Homo sapiens: one gene and its partners. The protein of the gene in region 3 interacts with the protein of the main gene of each other region in a biochemical or structural test. Each region holds a gene or a part of one and is shown on either strand. Other genes may lie near its edges.

Region 1 (7,604 bases), on a different chromosome or scaffold from region 3:
CCAGGCACGGTGGCTCATGCCTGTAATCCCAGCACTTTGGAAGGCCGAGGCGGGTGGATCACGAGGTCAAGAAATCGAGACCATACTGACCAACATGGTGAAACCCCAACTCTACTAAAAATACAAAAGTTAGGTGGGCATGATGGCAAGCGCCTGTAATCCCAGCTACTTGGGAGCCTGAGCCAGGAGAATTGCTTAAATCCAGGAGGTGGAGGTTGCAGTGAGCTGAGATCATGCCACTGCACTCCAGCCTGTGTGACAGAGTAAGACTCCATCTCAAAATAAATAAATAAATACACACACACACATACACACACACACACACACAGAGAGAGAGATGGCAAAGCAAGGGTTATTACAGAGTAGTTCTATTTGGTTGCACAATACAAAAAATAAGGAGAATAAAGGTGGAAAGGTAGATTGTAGCCATATTGCATAAGAACTTACAAGACATTTGGTATAAAACACTTAATAAATGTTGGGAGAGGCCGGGTGAGGTGGCTCACATCTGTAATCCCAGCACTTTGGGAGGCCCAGGGAGGAGGATCTCTTGAGTCCAGGAATTCAAGACCACCCTAGGCAACATAGTGAGACTGTCTCTACAAAAAATAAAAAGACATTAGCCAAGCATGGGGGCACACGCCTATAGTCCCAGCTACTAGGGAGGCTGAGGCAGGAGGATCACTTGAGCCCAGGAGTTTAAGGCTGCAGTGAGCCGTGATCATGCCACTGCACTCCAGCCTGGGTGACAGAATGAGACCCTGTTTAAAAAAAAAAAAAATTGTTGGGAGAATTTTGGTAAAACCTACAGATTAAAAACATTTATTTCTAAGCCTGAATTCAAACATACAAGGAAAAATGTATAGTTTTGTTGGTAGAAGACAGAGGAATCAGAAGGTTGGCATTCTGAACTTATGTTCAACAATGAGTTCACCTTTTTTTGAGACAGTTTTGCTCTGTTGCCCAGGTTGAAGTGCAGTGGTGCAATCTCGGCTCACTGCAACCTCCGCCTCCTAGGTTCAAGCGATTCTCCTGCCTCCACCTACTGAGTAGGTGGGATTACAGGCACATGCCACCACACCCAGCTACTTTTTTGCATTTTTAGTACAGATGGGGTTTCACCATGCTGGCCAGGCTAGTCTCGAACTCCTGACCTCAAGTGATCCACCCGCCTTGGCCTCCCAAAGTGCTGGGATTACAGGCGTGAGCCACCGTGCCCGACATAGTTCACTTTTAATAGTGCCAAAGATATACTGTACTTGTTTCCCCAGGTGTATGAATAATATCTATATTTACCTTAATTATAAGCTTCTTATAGAAAGCACACTGAATTAACTACTTTGATTCTAAGGCAATCTGGTGTTCAGTTATTACATCTATTTTTGAATCTGCCATTTATTGAGTGCTTACTGTACGCCAGATAGCATGTACGCTACATGGATTATATTAATAACACCCCAAACCAAAAATTTTACAACTGGCGAAGAACTGATTACACTTTCAATTTACAGAAAAGGAAAATGAAGAGTACATCAAGTTTCCATAAAAAGTAGGGGTTAGTGCTACATTAACAAAACTGGGACGGGAAGAAACATATACGGGCTATATATCCTGCTTTTGATTAAAGGGATCAAACCAACTAAAATTTTTGCCAGGACTGAGAATACAGAAAACAACAATGAGCAACAGCATTGACTACAGTACATCCTCAAGAGAGTATAAATCCACTATAATAATATCCAAGACACAAGACACAACCATTTCTTGCAATTTTCCCTAAAAACAGAAGGGAAGAAAATAGCAGCTGTGAAATCACCCAGACTACAAAAAAAAAAAAAAAAAAAAGCATCTGAAAAAAAAAAAGGAAAAAGAAAAAACTATCTCCTAATGAACAACTACATGCCAAAAAACAAGTCTCCACAGACTAGTCATTTATGGCAGGGTACAGGGTACAGTTAAAGAAACAACAGGATGACAGTCGCTATCATGTGGCCAGAAACCAGTCCATCAGCAATCTGTTTCACGTGAGATCACTTTTTCTCAAGAGAATGCCTGTTCTTGGGGAGCATGACCTGTTTTGGCAAAACCTCCCCAGGAATAATGGCCTGCTGGTCAATCTCGGAGGGCGAGCCCAGACCCGGCCTCTCCACAGGTACAGCAGCCCAGCGAGCACGGAGGAAGATTTCCAAGCCGACAGATGCGCGAACTGAAAAAGGAGGTCACGACGCTGAGAGAATAGATTTAACCCTCTGCTCGCTGGGAACCCAGAAGACTAAGGGGGAACATGTTTTTCAATGATGCAGGCGTCGGTGGCGGGAAGGCCTGCGAAGTCTTGCCAGGGCTCCCTGCAGTCCTCAGATTCCGCCTGACTTCTGCAGACAGCCCAGCTCCCTCGCCAGGAAGAAATCGCTCCGCGGCTGCACGCAACACCTTCACCGTCTGAAACCTGCGATTCTCCGCATTTGGTTTCCTCCCGAGGCTCCTGCACACCGCACCGTGATTGACGCACCCGAGGGGACCGTCAAAAATACATCTCAAGCCTAACTTTCCAACACTCCCGCGACGCAACCCCTTCCCCTTTCCTCAGCGGCTCTGGCCCGCCCCTCGCTCCTCGGGCCGCGTCCCGGCTGGCGACTCGGCGTGCACACGAGGCTCCTCCGCGGGAGAGCCCGCGCCCCGGCCCGGGGCCTGTCGGGGGTTGCAGACAAAGAGGCTGCAGCGCCGCCGCGGCCGCCAGGACCGTCCCCACGGGGACAGCTCCACGCCCACCGCCCCGGCTCCCGCGCCGCCGCCGCCGCCTCGCCTCACCGGTGGCTCCGGGGCCGGGCTCCTGCGCCCGCCACTGCTGCAGCCCGACGAACAATGGCAGGAGGAGGCGCCGGCGTCCGAGGCTCGGGCCCTCTGCGGCTCGCGGGCCCGCCGGCTGCTGCTGGCTGACTGACTAAACGCACCAGCGGAGGGAGGGAGCGAGCGAGCGACCCTGGCGCGCGCCCTCCCGCCTTCCCTCTGCGAGGCGAGGCCAGCCCGGCCCGCAGCCCGCCCGCCGGCCCGCGCCCCTCCCCCTCAGTTCGCCACAACATTGTAGTAAATTTCTATTGGGCCGCGCCGGAGGGAAGGAGGGGGCCGGGCCCGCGGCCCGTCCGCCCATTGGCTGAGGCCAACTTCTAGCTCCCCTTGTTTCCCCCCTCCCCTAGGCCGGTAAGGAGAGGAGAGGGGAACGAAAAAGAGAGAGGAAAAGGCAAGGGGCTGGCCGCGTGTGCGCACGCGCAAGTCGAACCCGGTCTGGAGCCGGGGTGTTCCGGGATCCCGCAGCACCCACGTGGGGCATGAGGCAGCTAGAGCCCTGGACGGTGAGGCCCTTTCCTCCTTCCAAGTAAGAGGCCGAGATTTGGAAGCCTCAGGGAAGTAACTCGCGTAGAGGTTGTAGCCAGGCTACCCCAACTGACTCCCCCTAAACGCTTAGTGACCTCGGGTAAGTCACTCAGCTTCTCTGTACCTCAGTTTCCCCATCCACTAGTTTGACTGTCTCTAGGCGCCCTTCCAACCCTGACATTCGATGAGACTTTACCTCTCGTGCCAGCTGTGTAAGGCCTGAAATGGAAGCTAAGTGTTGAGACCACGCCAAGATTGAACCTGTCTTCTGCATTTAAGGATCTCCTAATTCCCCCCTGGCAATCTCAACATTATAAAGACCTAGCTTCCGAGGTCTGGTCTCCAGATGAACTGAGGGTTGCTCTGACAATTGCTTAGTGTGTCTTTATTTCCTTCCAGAAGTGTCAGAGACCCCTTGACCCTTCCTACTCCCTGCTAGGCTGGTCTGTGAACAGGCTTCGGACCCACAGTGCAGAAAGAAGGCTTTTGTTTTAAGCATGATACCTAGAAGGTAAGATAGGATCTGGTGTTCTATTTTAGAGATGAGGAAACTGAAGCAGAGAGACTTAAAACTGACAGGATAAGAAGCCAGGCCATCTGACAGCAGAGTCTGTAGATGCCAGCTAGACATTCCTGATATCTAATCACAGCCCCTTCACGATCCCAGCACAGCCTCTGGAAACAGATTGCCTGGGTTCAATTCTTAGTCTCCAGCCTTTTCTAATGGTTTGATTTTCATTTTTCTTTTATTTATTTATTTATTTATTTGAGACGGAGTCTCGCTCTGTCACCAGGCTGGAGTGCGGTGCCGGAATCTCGGCTCACTGCAACCTCTGCCTCCCGGGTTCAAGCGATTCTCCTGCCTCAGCCTCCCGAGTAGCTGGGACTACAGGCGTGTACCACCACGCCCAGCTAATTTTTGTATTTTTAGTAGAGACGGGGTTTCACCGTGTTAGTCTCGATCTCCTGACCTCGTGATCCGCCCTTCTCGGCCTCCCAAAGTGCTGGGATTACAGGCTTGAGCCACCGCGCCCGGCTGTGCCTCATTTTTCAACACCATAAAAGGGGATAATATGTCCAAGTAGCTGGGACTCCCACCTATAGTGGGAGGCTGAGGTGGGAGGATTGCTCAAGCACAGGAGTTCAAGGCCACAGTGAGCTAGGATCATGCCATTCCACTCCAGCTTGGGCAACAGAGCAAGACTCCATCCCTAAAAACAAAAACGAGGGTTGGGGGAGGGAGAAGGATAATAATAGTTCCCACCTCACAGAGTTACTGTAAGAATTAGGCCAGGCATGGTGGCTCATGCCTGTAATCCCAGAACTTTGGGAGGCTGAGGCAGGCGGATCACCTGAGGTCAGGAGTTCGAGACCAGCCTGGCCAAATGGTGAAACCCCATCTCTACTAAAAATACAAAACTTAGCTGGGCCTGGTGGCAGGCACCTGTAATCTCAGTTATTCTCGGAGGTTGAGGCAGGAGAATCACTTGAACCCAGGAGGTGGAGGTTGCAGAGAGCCGAGATCATGCCATTGAACTCCAGGTTGGGTGACAAGAGCAAGACTCCATCTCAAAAAAAAGAAAAAGGAAAACAGAATTAAATGAGTTAAAATATGTAAAGGACTTAGAGCAGTGCCTAGCTCATAGTAAGATCTATGTGTGTTAATTATTATTACTATTCAGAGACTAAAATGTGGACTGAGAGGTGTGGAACTGGCAAATATAATAATATATTTGTTAAGCATGCAATTGTTGTTAGCACTGAGCTGAGCACGTTATGTAAATTGTCCATTTGAAACATCATAAAACCCCTTGAAAACCACCTGACTATACCATCTAAAACACCCTCCACTCAAACACCCTTATCCTGCTTTAATTTGCTTCATAGCACTTACCCTACTTGACTTTCTACTATATATTTATTATTTATTGTGCCTCTCAAATAAATTGCTGTAATCTAGACCCACTAGACTGCAAGCTCAGGAAGGCAGGGACTGTATCTGTATTCATCTCCCAGAACAGTATACGCTCAATAAATATTTGTTGAATGAGTTAATGAACATCCTCATTTTACATATAAGGAAACTGAGTCTTAGTGAGGTCAGGTGACTTGGCCAGGGTCATTCTGTGTATGAGGGGTGAAGCACCTGTTTTTTTTTGAGAAGGGGTTTCGCTCTTTTTGCCCAGGCTGGAGTGCAATGGCACGATCTCGCCTCACCTCACTGCAACCTCTGCCTCCCAGGTTCAAGCGATTCTCCTGCCTCAGCCTCGTGAGTAGCTGGGATTACAGGCATGTGCACCACGCCTGGCTAATTTTGTATTGTTAATAGAGATGGGGTTTCTCCATGTTGGTCAGGCTGGTCTCGAACCCCCAGCCTCAGGTGATCCACCCACCTCAGCATCCCAAAGTGCTGGGATTACAGGCATGAGCCACCATGCCTGGCCACACCTGTTCTTAAATACTCTGGTCTCCTGCCTCAAGTCCTCAGGTTCAGCTGTGCTTTTTATTCAGAGTTCTAGTCCTACCACCTCTGTGCCTCAGGCTTCCTTCACCAATCAGACAGGAAAATCTGGTACCTTGAAGGATGAGTATAGAAGACCAATTACCAGTGGTTTACCATCTCCACCACCACCAAGTTATCCAGCAAATTCAGATTCATGAAAGCCCAGTATTCTCTATGCCATGAAGTGCTAGCCAATGGCACATCTAATTGGATGCAAAGAATATGTAGCATTTAATAATCCTTACTCTGCAAATAAGTAGAGGTCTCAGGCTAACAGCAAAAGGCTAGACACAAGGCAGGTATGAACTACTCTGAAATTCAGAGTGCCATGCAATAACACACCATAATCCATTGACTCAGGCTTTAGAATCTGAAAGACCTGAATTCCAGTGCTGGCTTTTAATTCTTAGCCTGGAGATGAAAGGGCTTTGTAAACTGTAAAGTACTATCCACACATGAGGAATTTTTGTTATTTTAGACACACATCTTCAGTTGTTAGGCTAAGTGCCCAATCTCTGAGTGTTGCCAGGCCTATCACATAGGAAGATGTGGGGGTATAAGTAATGCCTAATATGAAGGTGGAAAAACTACCTTTACTCCTGGGCCCATCTGCCCTCTCAGACTTCTGCAAACCAGGTATCCAGTCCCAGCTCACCCTGCAGAGACTGCCATCAGGTACCAAGGGTAAAGGTCCCAAGCACCGTCTCTGAGGCTAATTTCCAAGGCAGAAACAGCTCTGCTCCATGCTCACATCTGGGTGGCAGCTGTGCTATGCCCCAAGCCCCAGGATGGGGTCCCTAAGGACCATCTCTATCTCGCCTGCCAGCTGAGCCCACCATTACCTCCCCACCCCCTACCCCTTGTGTTCCTTCCTAGGGAATACAGGCCCCGCTAGCTGCCTGTTAGCCCCTGGAGCAGTCAAGGGCAGTAAGCAAAAGAGAAAAAGAAAAAAAAAGACAGTGTGAAAGGGTCTTAATCCTTCCCCACAGCAAACTGAGCCCAAGCAAAAGCAAACACCAGCTGCACATAAGAGGGTGAAATTAGATGGTGAAATTAGGTGGTGACCAGTGGGGAAGGCCAGGGAGTGTAGATGAGGCCTCAGATGACCTGGTAGAGATGAGACTGGAAGAAAGCGGGGAGGGGCGGGGAAACCATACCCAAATCTGGGACGTGGGCGGATTAGGGACACAGCTGGCCTGAAGCCCTGTGTCTGTTGTGGAGGGTGGCAAGAGATTGAAGAGGGCTTTGAAAAGCTGGGCCCACCAACAAAGTGTTCTGAACAGTACTGTTGAATGAAAACTGATGCTGGTACCAAAAGTATATGAAGAGTAGTGCTTGCCATCCTGCCTATGGCAGGATAAAAAATCACAGTTATTTTAGACTTGTAAACACAAATGATAAATCAAACAGGCTATAATGGGATGGGAATTACCATTCATACAGTGGGATGGGGATTAATTTTACTAGTAGTACTTGAATTGTTCATAGAAAATTTAGAAACACAAGAAAAAATGTAAGTCACTATAAAGCCACCAGTCAAAAATAACTACCATCAATATTTTGGGACCTTCCCTTCTAGTACCTTTTCTTATACGTACACTTTTTTTTTTTTTTGAGACAGTGGTCTCACTCTGTTACCCAGGCTGGTGTACAGTAGCATGACCACAGCTCACTGCAGCCTCGACCTCCTGGGCTCAAGTGATGTGATCCTCCCACCTCAGCCTCCCAG
Region 2 (3,785 bases), on a different chromosome or scaffold from region 3:
AGAAAACTGCAACTCCCACTATGACAGAAATAATTGTAGACTGAGGGAGAAAGTATTATGGCCTGCTAACATTAGGAAGCATGAGTCTACCACTATTCCCCATTTGCTTTCTGTCTCACGATAAGTTTCCATGAAAAAATTCTTCTTTTAATATTTTTTACATATAAAGAAACCAGAGTTGAAACCCAAGTATAAAAGGCTTGTTAGATCCAACTGAATAGAAAATAAGCTCTCCCAAATTTTAATTAAAATTACTTTCCCTTTCTTTGAAAAAGAAAAAAACTCTTGCATGACCAAACTTAAAAGTCCTGATTTGAAAGTTTCATAAACCTTATCTTTTCTCCATAATGAAACATCTAGATTCTGTGCTGTCCTGTCAGAGGCAGACTTTTATTTTCGTTTGGGTAATTTTTATCCTTGGAGACATCGCCCCCTGCTGTAACACATGCTTAGTTGCAGAAGCATTTTTCACTCAAAAAAGGATATGAATAAAAAGATACAATGATTATTAAAGTGAAAGAAACTTTATTTTGAGTAATATACATATCATTCATTCCATTTAATTTTCATAGTGCATAGCTATGTGTAGAAGTACACAGGGAAGAATAAACATTAGAAATACCTAGCCATGAAAATATACAAGTGAAGACATTTGATATATCCATGGACAGGCTTGGAAGTATTATAAAACAGGATCCATTAGGAAAGAATAAAAACCATGCAAAAAAAATCTTATCTAAATCATGGCAGGCAAGTGCAATCAATATAAATCATAGTCTCTGGGTACAAAAACTATACATGTTCTTTGGATTAAAAGCAAATGGGTGGCTTGGCTTTTATGTCCAAGCCAAAAATCATCTATACAAGTAAAAAGTGTGTGGGTCAGGCATGGTGGCTCCCACACCTGTAATCCCAGCACTTTGGGAGGCCAAGGCAGGCGGATCATCTGAGGTCAGGAGTTTGAGACCAGCCTGGCTAACATGGTGAAAACCTGTCTCTACTAAAAATACAAAAATTAGCTGGGTGTGGTGGCATGCACCTGTAATCCCAGCTATTTGGGAGGCTGAGGCAGGAGAATTGCTCAAAATAAAAAAAAAAAAATAAAGAACTAAAAAGTGTGGATACTGTTATGCCACATGTGATAATAAAATATTCAAGGCCACAGATGCAAGTCACCAACTTACAAAGAGAATACTGAAGGTAGGGTACATTAAAAAAATAGAGAAATGCAATAAAGAAAATGCCACCTCTGCCTAAATCAGGAAAGAGTAAATGCATAGGCATTAAAACAGCAGCTCTGCATACTACACTGCATTTCTCTTTGTCAAAAAGAATTCACTGTGTATCATTACAAAGGTCAGTGAATAAGACGAGGCAATAAACGTAGCGCCTTGGTATTAGGGCAAATTTAGTTTTCTTTTCATTTTACACATGAGGGGGAAAAAAGAAGTGTAGAACTAGGAATGCTCATCTTTCCATTCAGTACACTAACTTTTAAGTGTGTGGCACAAATGGAATAGAGACATGAAGTTTAATGAGATCCAAGCTTCCAAAAATGATTTCACATTTGAAAAGCTATGGAAAGATACAATTATTTACTGTTTTACAAATCAAATGCTTAAACCAAGTTTAAAAGTTGAGACCGAAAAAAAATTGATGAAGAAAAAATGGCCAAAAAAATTAAACAAAATCTCTTGGTTTCCTTTACAGTTTCTTTTTTTGCGTTTTATTTTTTTCAAATTGCATTTTACAGTAGAAATGCAGACCACTTTGGATAGCTATGGCTCGATACTTCTGGGTGCCCTCCTCCTAAGACATCCTCTTCTTACATTCCACTGAACAGAAAACCATCCCTTCTACTGGCATGAACTTCTGCCCAATGAGGCATTTGCTGCAGCAAGAGCACAGAAAGCACTCTGTGGATGCATGCCAGCTGAAATTGTTATAGGTCACCCGCTGCACTTCTGGGTCGATGGCATTGTGGCATCCTTGACACACCTATTAAGAAATAATACAAGAGAAGAGGGTGAGAGATCAAGCTGTAATGGTAACATTTTCATCTTAGGACATATTTCTTTAGATGATAAATTAAAACTCATAATGACAACCTCAGAAATACACAATGGAGGGTGGCCTTCTAGCTAACCTTTTTGGCCAACTGTTAATGGAGGTCAATATTCTGAGCAGCCTGAGAAATAACGAGTGAAGGCCAAACAGGTGATTTGATGCATGTAAGATAACTTCATGGCATTCAAGGCAGAAAGTCTTGATGGGAAGTTCCAAAGCAGTGTGCTTAGTTCTGATGTATTTTATTAGATTGCACATTTGTAATTACACAGAAGTTTATGATTTTTCCTTGTTCATTAAAGCTTTGAAGTGGTAATTTTACCTGTCTTACCTATGACACATGAGATTATTAACACCACTAATTTCTAGACAGTAGTAAATTAAAATCATGTTCAAAGTAATTAAGGACTCAATTAAAAATACTGACAGTGTTTGAGAAAAATGAATTTGCACTAAAAATATAACTTGTAGTTAATTGGCTTCTATTCTGTCATAAGATCAGTCATAATTTATGTGTAATCTAATATTGTAGAACATTAATACTTACAATCCCTGTACCATTCAGTATGTGTTATGTATATATACATGACATACAAACATGTATATACATACACAAACATACATACATTTACACCACAAAATTTTCTTCTTATTCAAACATGCACATGAGGAAAATGAATAAATAACCTATGTTATAGCAGAAAACAGAAAACCAGTTCGGACCTCTGAAACACTGGATAGTCCATGCCTTATAGTTTATACATGTTCTGAATGAATATGGCTGTCTTAAAGTTTTTGTTTTAAATATTTCATAACAAGTGAAGAAGCCAGCAAGACTGTCTGGTATCACAGTGACTAATCTTAAGCACCCTTGGTCTCGTAATGTGATTGTCAGGAATTACTGAGGGATAAGGGGTGGGAACAGGTGAGTGGAGGTCATTCAGCTTGAGCCTCCTTACTTGAAAAGACTTCAAAATGTGGCTGCTACTCACTGGGTAATTGGTTTAGGCAGTGAAGTGAGGCCTGGTTATATATGTCCATTTCAGACCTGCATATTTTTGTTACATTGCTTCTGATTACAGAGATTATAGCTCTGTAATCTATAAGTTAGGTCAACCCAGTCTTCCCTGAGATACAATGAAAATTCTTTGATCAACACACTATTCCTGAATACTATAAAAATGAACGTTTCAATTACAAGCACATTTCTAATGTGCAGCTGCACCATGCAAGCAACTGCTTTTTGTATATATTTTTATAGCTTTATTATGCATTTAGAATGTCTTATTTTCTGCATTTCATATTAATCTTTCCATTTTAAAATTTATGATCAACACATAATTGTACATATTTATGGGTGTACTATGTGATGTTTCAATACATGTATACATAGTGTAGTGATCAAATCAGGGTAATTAGGATATCCCTCTCCTTAAACATTTATGATTTCCTTGTGATAAGAACAGTCTTTCAATATTTCTTGTTTATGTATTTTGAATGTGTTCTTGTAAAATACACCGTGTGTTTTATTCCCTTGCTTTCAGACCATGATCTATCTTCTTTTTCTCAGACCTGTGATTTTTTAAAATTACCCAAAACACACATTTTCAGTTGCAATTTACAAAAAAGAGATAACTAATGTTCAATTACACATGAAATTAAGAAAATTAAGCAAAAAGATAATTAGTACACATAAATGGTATAGAGAATTAAAGTCT
Region 3 (7,478 bases):
ATACTTCTGATAATTTAACACCAAAAAACCCCAAACAAATCCTAACCAATTTGTTTAACAGAAACGTCATGCAGGCAGGGTTTTTTTCCCCCTTTCTTTGGATCATTCAACCTCTTTGACACGAATATGCCTTCACTGCAAGCCAGGCAAAACCAAAAAGGCAACCCGTTTTCTGCATGCTCGTCAAATACCTGGACTCTGCGTTTACGAAACGATGACAACATGATGGAGGAATGTGGAGTCTAAAGAGGGAGGGGGAAGAGCAAGATAACAAGCTTCTAAGGGCAAACGGAACAAAATCATGAAGAAAACAGATTATTTAAAAAATATGAATACAGATTAAAAATCCAATTTCAGATATTTTTTCAGTGTCTTCTCTCTGACATTCTGTATAGCGTCTAAATCCCACAAGGGATTTAAAATGTGGAAGGAGAACCAAGGTTCCCAGGTCTTGGCAGTTACTTTCTAGATATGCTGCCCTGGTCAAGTCTCATTCTCCTTGGGGCCTCAATTTCCCCACTTGTTAAAGTAATAATACCGAATATACTTTTTCAAACTAAACATGCCTTCCTCCTGAGGATCCCAGGACAAGATGATTCCTAAATCCCCTTCCATTCAGCAATAAAAGAGCATGACTTCATGAAATTGCCACAAAGTAGAACTCAAGCCACAAAGATCTGACTTGGGCCTAGTTTGCCAGTACACTTACTTTACAAAATACTATTTCCTGTTCAAAATTGGTACAAGAGGAATATGCAAAAAAGGTGGAAGAGAGGTGATGGTTTGCAGCACAGCTGCTCCAGTCAAGTGGCCCCCAGTGATGAGCTATGCAGTCCTCCTCCTCCTCCGCATTCCTGGAGTCAGCATTTGCCACTAGGGCGTTGCATTCTTCTACAGTACAGCCGCAGCTGATATGCTGCAACAGATGAGTGCGTAACTAGTGGGATCCCTGCATAGCCCACGGAGGACTGATTACAAAGGCAGGCCAGCCTTGAACACACTTGTCCATTCTTAGTGTAGATTCAGCAGTGACAGGACATGGGGGACTATTCCTGAGATCCACTTTTCAGGATCTGCAGTTGACCCCCAACTTTGGATGAAGGCAGGTAAGAAAAAGCAGAAAAAATTCTAACCCAGGGAACCAAAAGACATACTTAAAACAGCTCTCCCCATGTGCACCTCTTCATCATATTGCTTGACAGGCTTACACTGCAGCCTGTGACATACCAGATTTCTCCAATTATTAGATGACTACAAAACACACTGCCAAGACCAAAGCATATCAGAGAATCAGTTACTAGGCTGATGGTTTGCCATAAGAACTGCTTCACACTTGTCCAGGATGAAGCAAAAATCCTCCTTTCCAGTCTCTCCATCAAGGTCCCTGGATAACAGTTAACACACTTTGAGGGTCCCTTTGAGTAATTATTGGCCCAGTTACTAAAAAAGGCTTATTGTTAATTTCCTGCACAGAGGCCTTTACTGCAGCACTTTTTTTTTCCTCCGCAGCACATTCAATTTGACCTTTCAAAATCTAAGACATTAGTTAGCTGCAATGAAAGGGAAAATAAACGACTAGTTAAGGAGTCGGAACCTTGACTCAATGGCTTCATATAGCTGAGTGTTCCTCCTGCTATTTCCAAGATTTTCTGTTTCCTGGCTCCAAGACACCCCCACCCTTCCATCTTTGATACATTCTGTTTTACTTAAGGCCAATTGCTATGACGACGCAATTTCTCAACACATTATGAAAATACTTCATATGGCCTCTCTCCTGTTCTTCCCGAACAGCCATGATGGTAAGTTTTTCTAAAATAACATGATGAAGACAGAACAAAGGGCTTAAATATTTTAGGATCTATTATATAAAAGAGATCTGATTAGATGTTGGAACAGTTCAAGCATCATCTCAACCCAGCTTTCTGAGCTATTTAGGCTTTTCATTTAAAACATATTCAACTTTTAACAAGGCGCTTATTTAAAATATATTTTACTCTAGTACATCAGAGACTTTTGAAAGCGATGTTCTAGGGGAAGCGTCTAATCAAATTCTCAGGGACAGCTTTCAAACAAAAGACTGTTCTATCATTCAACAGTGGTATGGTAGAATTTTTGACACTGTATCTCGACTCGAAAGACCCAGTCCCAGGAAACACACACACAAACAAGAACGCTAAGCTATTAAGTTATTTGATTTGAGCCACATACCATGCAAGCACTGCATTTACCTATTATTTACAAGCAAATCACAACTAGGAAGAAAGAAAAATGTTTATTACAAGGAAAGAAAAGGAGACGGCCAGTCTCAGACCCTTCTGCGTTCAGAGAGACGGCAGAGATTCGCCATGCAGGATGAAATTAAGGTCAGAGAGCCGTTTACGCTATGCTCGGGCTCCCCGGGCTCTTCCTCCCTCTACGGCTGGCCGGCATTGCTGGTGCGATTCGGAAGAACGAGCTGCAGAAGTCGCTCCCGGCCGAGGGAAGGGACCGGGGGCGGTGCGGGGAGCGTTCTGCAGGGAGGCGGCTGGCGAAGATCCCGACGAGGGAGCCCCCACCCACCTGCCGCAGCCGGATGGGGCAGGGCAGGGCCGCGCCGCAGCCAGGCTTGGGGGTGGTTGGGAGGGACCCGGCGGCCTCGCGCCCCCTCCCCCCGTCAGTGACATTCCAGCGGCGGCGCCGAGCCTCGGCCCGGCTGCTCCTCCGCAGCCCACGCGCCACAAAAGCAGCGGCAGCGGCTTCCCCCACTCAGCCGAATGGAGGCAGCCCCGCGGCCCGCCCGGCTCACCTGTCCGCGCGCCGGCCCCGCCCCGCCTGAAGAGCTGCCCAGCTCCCACCCGGGGGTCGGCTGCCCGGGGCCCCGCTCCCTCCCGGAGCTCCCCGGCTGCCCCTCTCACCGGCTCTCGGGGGGTGAGGGGCGTGGGTGCGTCGGGCCGAGGGGTGCTGAAGGACCGAGGAGCCTCCGCGGCCTCCGCTCCACACCGTTCACTCCGCAGCGGGTAGTGGCGGCGACGCGCGCGCCCCGCCTCTTTTATAAGCGGCTACGCGCGCTCCCGCGGCGGGCGGGCGCGAGCGCCGGGGGAAGCGCCCCGGCGCTGCGCGAGGGGTGGGGGAGCGCGCCGGCGGAGCAAAGGGGGCGGTGCTCCCGCCGGCTCGCCGCCCGACCGCCCGGCGGAAAGGGCCGAGCGATCCCGGAAGGAGCCGAAGCGACAATGCGGGGGAAGAGGTGAGCGAGGGGCGGGCCGCGGGAGGATGGGGAAATGGGGCGCGCGCAAGGGGTGAGGGGTGATGGTGCAGTGAGGTCACTGCCTACGCCCTGGCGGTAGAGACGCTCCCGCCTCACCTCCCTCCCCGCAGCTTGCGCCCCGCCACCGCCCGCCCTGCGGACAGTCGTCTGCATCGCACCACTCCGCCCTGGGAGCTCTTCCAGGACTGCGGAGAAGGGCGGGGCGGGGGTATCGCTGCAGTCTGGCTGGGGATGCTGCGCGCCCCGGCCGGAAAAACGCCCAGTCCCAAAGGGTGAGATCACCCGAGTGCGTCTCTTCCTGCTCACTTTCCCGAGGAGGAGGCTGGCGCTGGGGTCCCAAGTCAGCCTAATTCGGTGGGGGCTGGGGTCAAGAAGACGCGGATGATTTGGGGCCCCGGGTTTGAGGAGGTGGTGAGAGGAAAAGGCCAAATCCGAATCAGAAAAAAAATTAAGTCGACTAATTTGGGGCATAAAGCTGTCATTCTGGGATTTGGAGAGTTAATTTCTTATGTTCTTGGAGATTATGGGGGAGGAAACGGCAGCGGCAAAATAATAATTTCTTACATTCCTGCAACAAAAGCTTTCTCACAGGTCGCCAGTGGAATAGGCTACATTCATCCTATTTCATAAACAAGACATTAAGGTTCTTTCTGGCACAATTAATCGAACTTGCCTTGTGTACTAGGCACTATGCTAAGTATTTCGTGTTACCTTTTCATTTCTTAATCTTTGCAATAATTTTATGAGATGTTTTCCCATTTTACAAATGGGCACTCTTACATAATGCTCATGTAGGCTAAGTCTCTTGGCCCAGGTCAGGCAGCTACCAATTGGAAGAGCTAGGATTTACATCTCAGCAGTCAGAACCTTCCCTTTGCAACCGTATGTGTATTGCCTTCAAATAGGAAAGGGAGGCATTTTGATGCGGGTGGCTGCTGGGGTGCAGAAAGAGAAAAATAAGATTCTCAGAATTTCTGATACTTAAAGTCCTAGCAGTTTAAGGTCCTGGCTCTAAACTCTGTAGCCAGAAGCCCTGGATTAGGAAGCCCTTTCCCTATCCCCATTCCGGTGACAGCTGGGCCGCAGCCACTGGGAGTAACACCCAGATCATTCCTGTGCAGTCAGGCAGACGGGGAGCTCTGCAGCTTAGGAAGGCTTCAGCCTCCTGGTTACCAAGCAGCTCTCCTCTTTAAATAAATATAAAGTCATTGGACACTGCACCAGAATCTGGGCCCAGACCTGGCCCTGAGCTTCCTGGCCCTCTGCAGTTTGGCTTCTTTCCCCGTGCCTGGGACCTGCAATACGGTTTCTAAGCTGTCCTGGCTGTAGCCATGATACTGAGGAAAAATTTCCCTACCCACTCACTCCATTGGAGTGGAGAGAAAAGCAGTGACCACACCCCAGAAGCTGCTTTAGAGAATCTGTGTAGGAGAAACGTAGGAGCTGAGAGGCATTTCCTGCAATCTTCTATGTAGAGAAAACAGCGCTGAGCAACTCCTCCCTGGAGTGTGCATTTCTGAGAACAGCTGATGGTATCCGTGGCCTCTTCTCCAGCAGGTTGCAGTAAAATGTTTGATCAGATATTCAGCTCTGGGTACAAAATGGCTAACACAATTGTAGCTCCCTAAAATTTCCAAGACCTTCTGCTCCAGCAAAGAAAGCACCTTGGGACTGAGGGGCAGGAGCTGTTCAAAAGGGAGGGTTTTTCTATTAAATCACCCTGGCCCCATAGTGAACTGGGGGTTCTGCTGCTTTTGCTGGATGCAAAATGGAGACCTAAGAGAGAGCTCTGTATTGATAGAGAAACTAAAATCTTATTTGATTCTTTGTGTGATCTGAGACATGACCAAGAAACAGTATCCCCAGCGCTCTCCACCTCCCACCCACTCACCCTGCCTTCTCTGCACTTGGCACTTGAAACCAGCCATTCTTCACTGTTCTGTTGTCTGCCTACCTCACCTCCCACCAGTTTCACCATATGCCTAACACCCTAGTAGGTGTGGAAAGCTGGGGGAAAAAACAACAACAGAAAAAGCACAGGACAGTGTAACGACTTTGTAACCAATCAACTCCATGTTCTCAGTCACACCTCTCCTGGCCTCCTAAAAAGCAGAGGGTTGGACTGAATTCTCAACTCCTTTTTCTAGTTTCAGCAATCCTCAGAAGGTTTGATAGGCACCCTAAGCTTAAGCGTCTAGATAGTCCCAATACTTTTTCAGGTTGTTGAAAAGGTCAACTGTTGGAAAACACACTAATTGTGGTGATGTGTCCATATGTTCCAGCCAGGGAAAGTCACTTGCCCACTCTCCCTGGGAGAGACCCCTTCCCCTCCCCTCCCCTCCACACCCTGTCTCACCCCCTGCAAAGATAACAGGCAAGCACTTCCACTATTTTTCTTCCCTAGAAGGGAGCTGATTGGGAAGAGTCATGCTGGCAAGTGGACTGCACTTCCCATATGACATTCTGCAGTGTCAGAGCTGGCAAGAAATAACACAGCTCTTCAAATCACAGTGCCTGGATGAACCTTGAAGGCTTTATGCTAAGTGAAATACGCCAGACACATAAGGATGAATACTGTATGACCATTCCACTTATATGAGATCCCTAAAATTGTCAGATTCATAGAGACAGAAAAAACTGTTGTTACCAGGGTCTGAGGGGAGGGAGGAATGGGTTATTATTGTTTAGTGGGAAAGTTTCCGTCTGGGATGGTGAAAGAGAGTTCTGGAGAGGATGGTGGTGATGGTTGCACAACACTGTGACTGTACATAATGCCACAGAACTGTACACTTACAAATGGTTAGGCAGGGCTTGGTGGCTCACGCCTGTAATCCCAGCACTTTGGGAGGCTGAGGCGGGCGGATCACTTGCGGTCAGGAGCTTGAGACCATCCTGGCCAACATGGTGAAACCCTGCCTCTACTAAAAATACAAAAATTAATCGGGTGTGGTGGTGCACACCTGTAATCCCAGCTACTCGGGAGGCTGAGGCAGGAGAGTCGCTTGAACCCGGGAGGCGGAGGTTGCAGTGAGCCAAGATCGCGCCATTGCACTCCAGACTGGGCGACAGATTGAGACTCCGTCTCAAAAAAAAAAAAAAGGTTAAACTTTTTATGTTCTATATATTTTACTACAATCAAAAGACAAAGCAAAACACAAGCCCCTGCTTCTAAAATCAAGCACCACATTAGAGAAGCAGCCTGATAGGCTCTGGGAGTGTGGCCTTACCAGGGTTTTAAGACTCCAGGTGACAGCAGAGATGTAAACTCCTCCCTCCCCTCCCCTAATCCGACCTTGTAATCTGGCTCCGGTCATTTCACATCTGTTCCCTTGCAGGGCTGCCTGCTAGGCCTGGTCAGTCCGTGTCCCTCCTGCTTACCTTGAACCCACTACTACAGTTAGTTTCACAAATCACGTCAAACCTTCTCAACAAGTTTCAGTTGTTTCCCATTGCCTACGGAATAGGCCGAAATTTGCAGCCTCCACAATCTTGTTCCAATTTACCTTTTCACAGCATCATTCCCTACAGTTCTGCTCTACTGGTCTGAGGTTAGCCTCTTTCCAAAACATGTTATTTCTCCAACTCCATGCTTTTGTGAACAATTTTTTCCTCCAATTAGAACATCCTTTCCCAACACTCATGCCTCCTTTCTGCCTGAAAATCTTACCCATTTTGAGTATATGTAAGTAGAACCTTTCTGGAAGAGCAGTTGGCAATGTGGATCAAAATATAAAATTTGCATGCCATTTGACCCAGCAATGTTAGTTACATCTAGAAATCTGCCTTAAGCAGGACAAGATGCATTTTCATTCAGGACGGGCGTGGTGGCTCACACCTGCAATCCCAGCACTTTAGGAGGCTGAGGCAGGCAGATCACTTGAGCCCAGGAGTTTAAGACCAGCCCGGGCACCATGGCAAAACCCCATCTCTACAAAAAAATGCAAAAATTAGCCAGATGTGGTGGCTTGCGCCTGTAGTCCCAGCTACTCAGGAGGCTGTGGGAGGATCACCTAAGCGCGGGAGGTCAAGGCTGCAGTGAGCCATGACTGTGCTACTGCATTCCAGCTCAGGCAATAGAGTGAGACCTTGTCTCAAAAAAAAAAAAAAAAAAAAAAAGAATGTTAATAATTTAAAAAAATATATTAGGCATAACCTAGTCACCAAGTGAAAAATGATTAATTACGATTCATAAATTCAAGACTATATTCATGATATAATACTTATTGACTTGAGA

Evidence for each region. Proteins that work in one complex are often made in the same cells at the same time.
Region 1: the proteins of SPTAN1 (region 3) and EPB41 form a complex in vitro, tested with the Homo sapiens proteins (one study listed by BioGRID).
Region 2: the proteins of SPTAN1 (region 3) and TES form a complex in vitro, tested with the Homo sapiens proteins (one study listed by BioGRID).

Annotation. Positions count from the first base shown.
Region 1 is NC_000001.11:28,909,973-28,917,576, reverse strand, and holds the start of EPB41 (protein 4.1), read right to left. Parts: upstream 3,009-7,604; 5' UTR 2,809-3,008; intron 1-2,808. UniProt on the Homo sapiens protein: Protein 4.1 is a major structural element of the erythrocyte membrane skeleton. It plays a key role in regulating membrane physical properties of mechanical stability and deformability by stabilizing spectrin-actin interaction. Recruits DLG1 to membranes.
Region 2 is NC_000007.14:116,255,507-116,259,291, reverse strand, and holds the end of TES (testin), read right to left. Parts: exon of another isoform or gene 1,999-3,785; coding exon 1,810-1,998; 3' UTR 509-1,809; downstream 1-508. UniProt on the Homo sapiens protein: Scaffold protein that may play a role in cell adhesion, cell spreading and in the reorganization of the actin cytoskeleton. Plays a role in the regulation of cell proliferation. May act as a tumor suppressor. Inhibits tumor cell growth.
Region 3 is NC_000009.12:128,548,113-128,555,590, reverse strand, and holds the start of SPTAN1 (spectrin alpha chain, non-erythrocytic 1), read right to left. Parts: upstream 3,005-7,478; 5' UTR 2,895-3,004; exon of another isoform or gene 2,280-2,894; intron 243-2,279; exon of another isoform or gene 225-242; coding exon of another isoform or gene 192-224; intron 1-191. UniProt on the Homo sapiens protein: Fodrin, which seems to be involved in secretion, interacts with calmodulin in a calcium-dependent manner and is thus candidate for the calcium-dependent movement of the cytoskeleton at the membrane.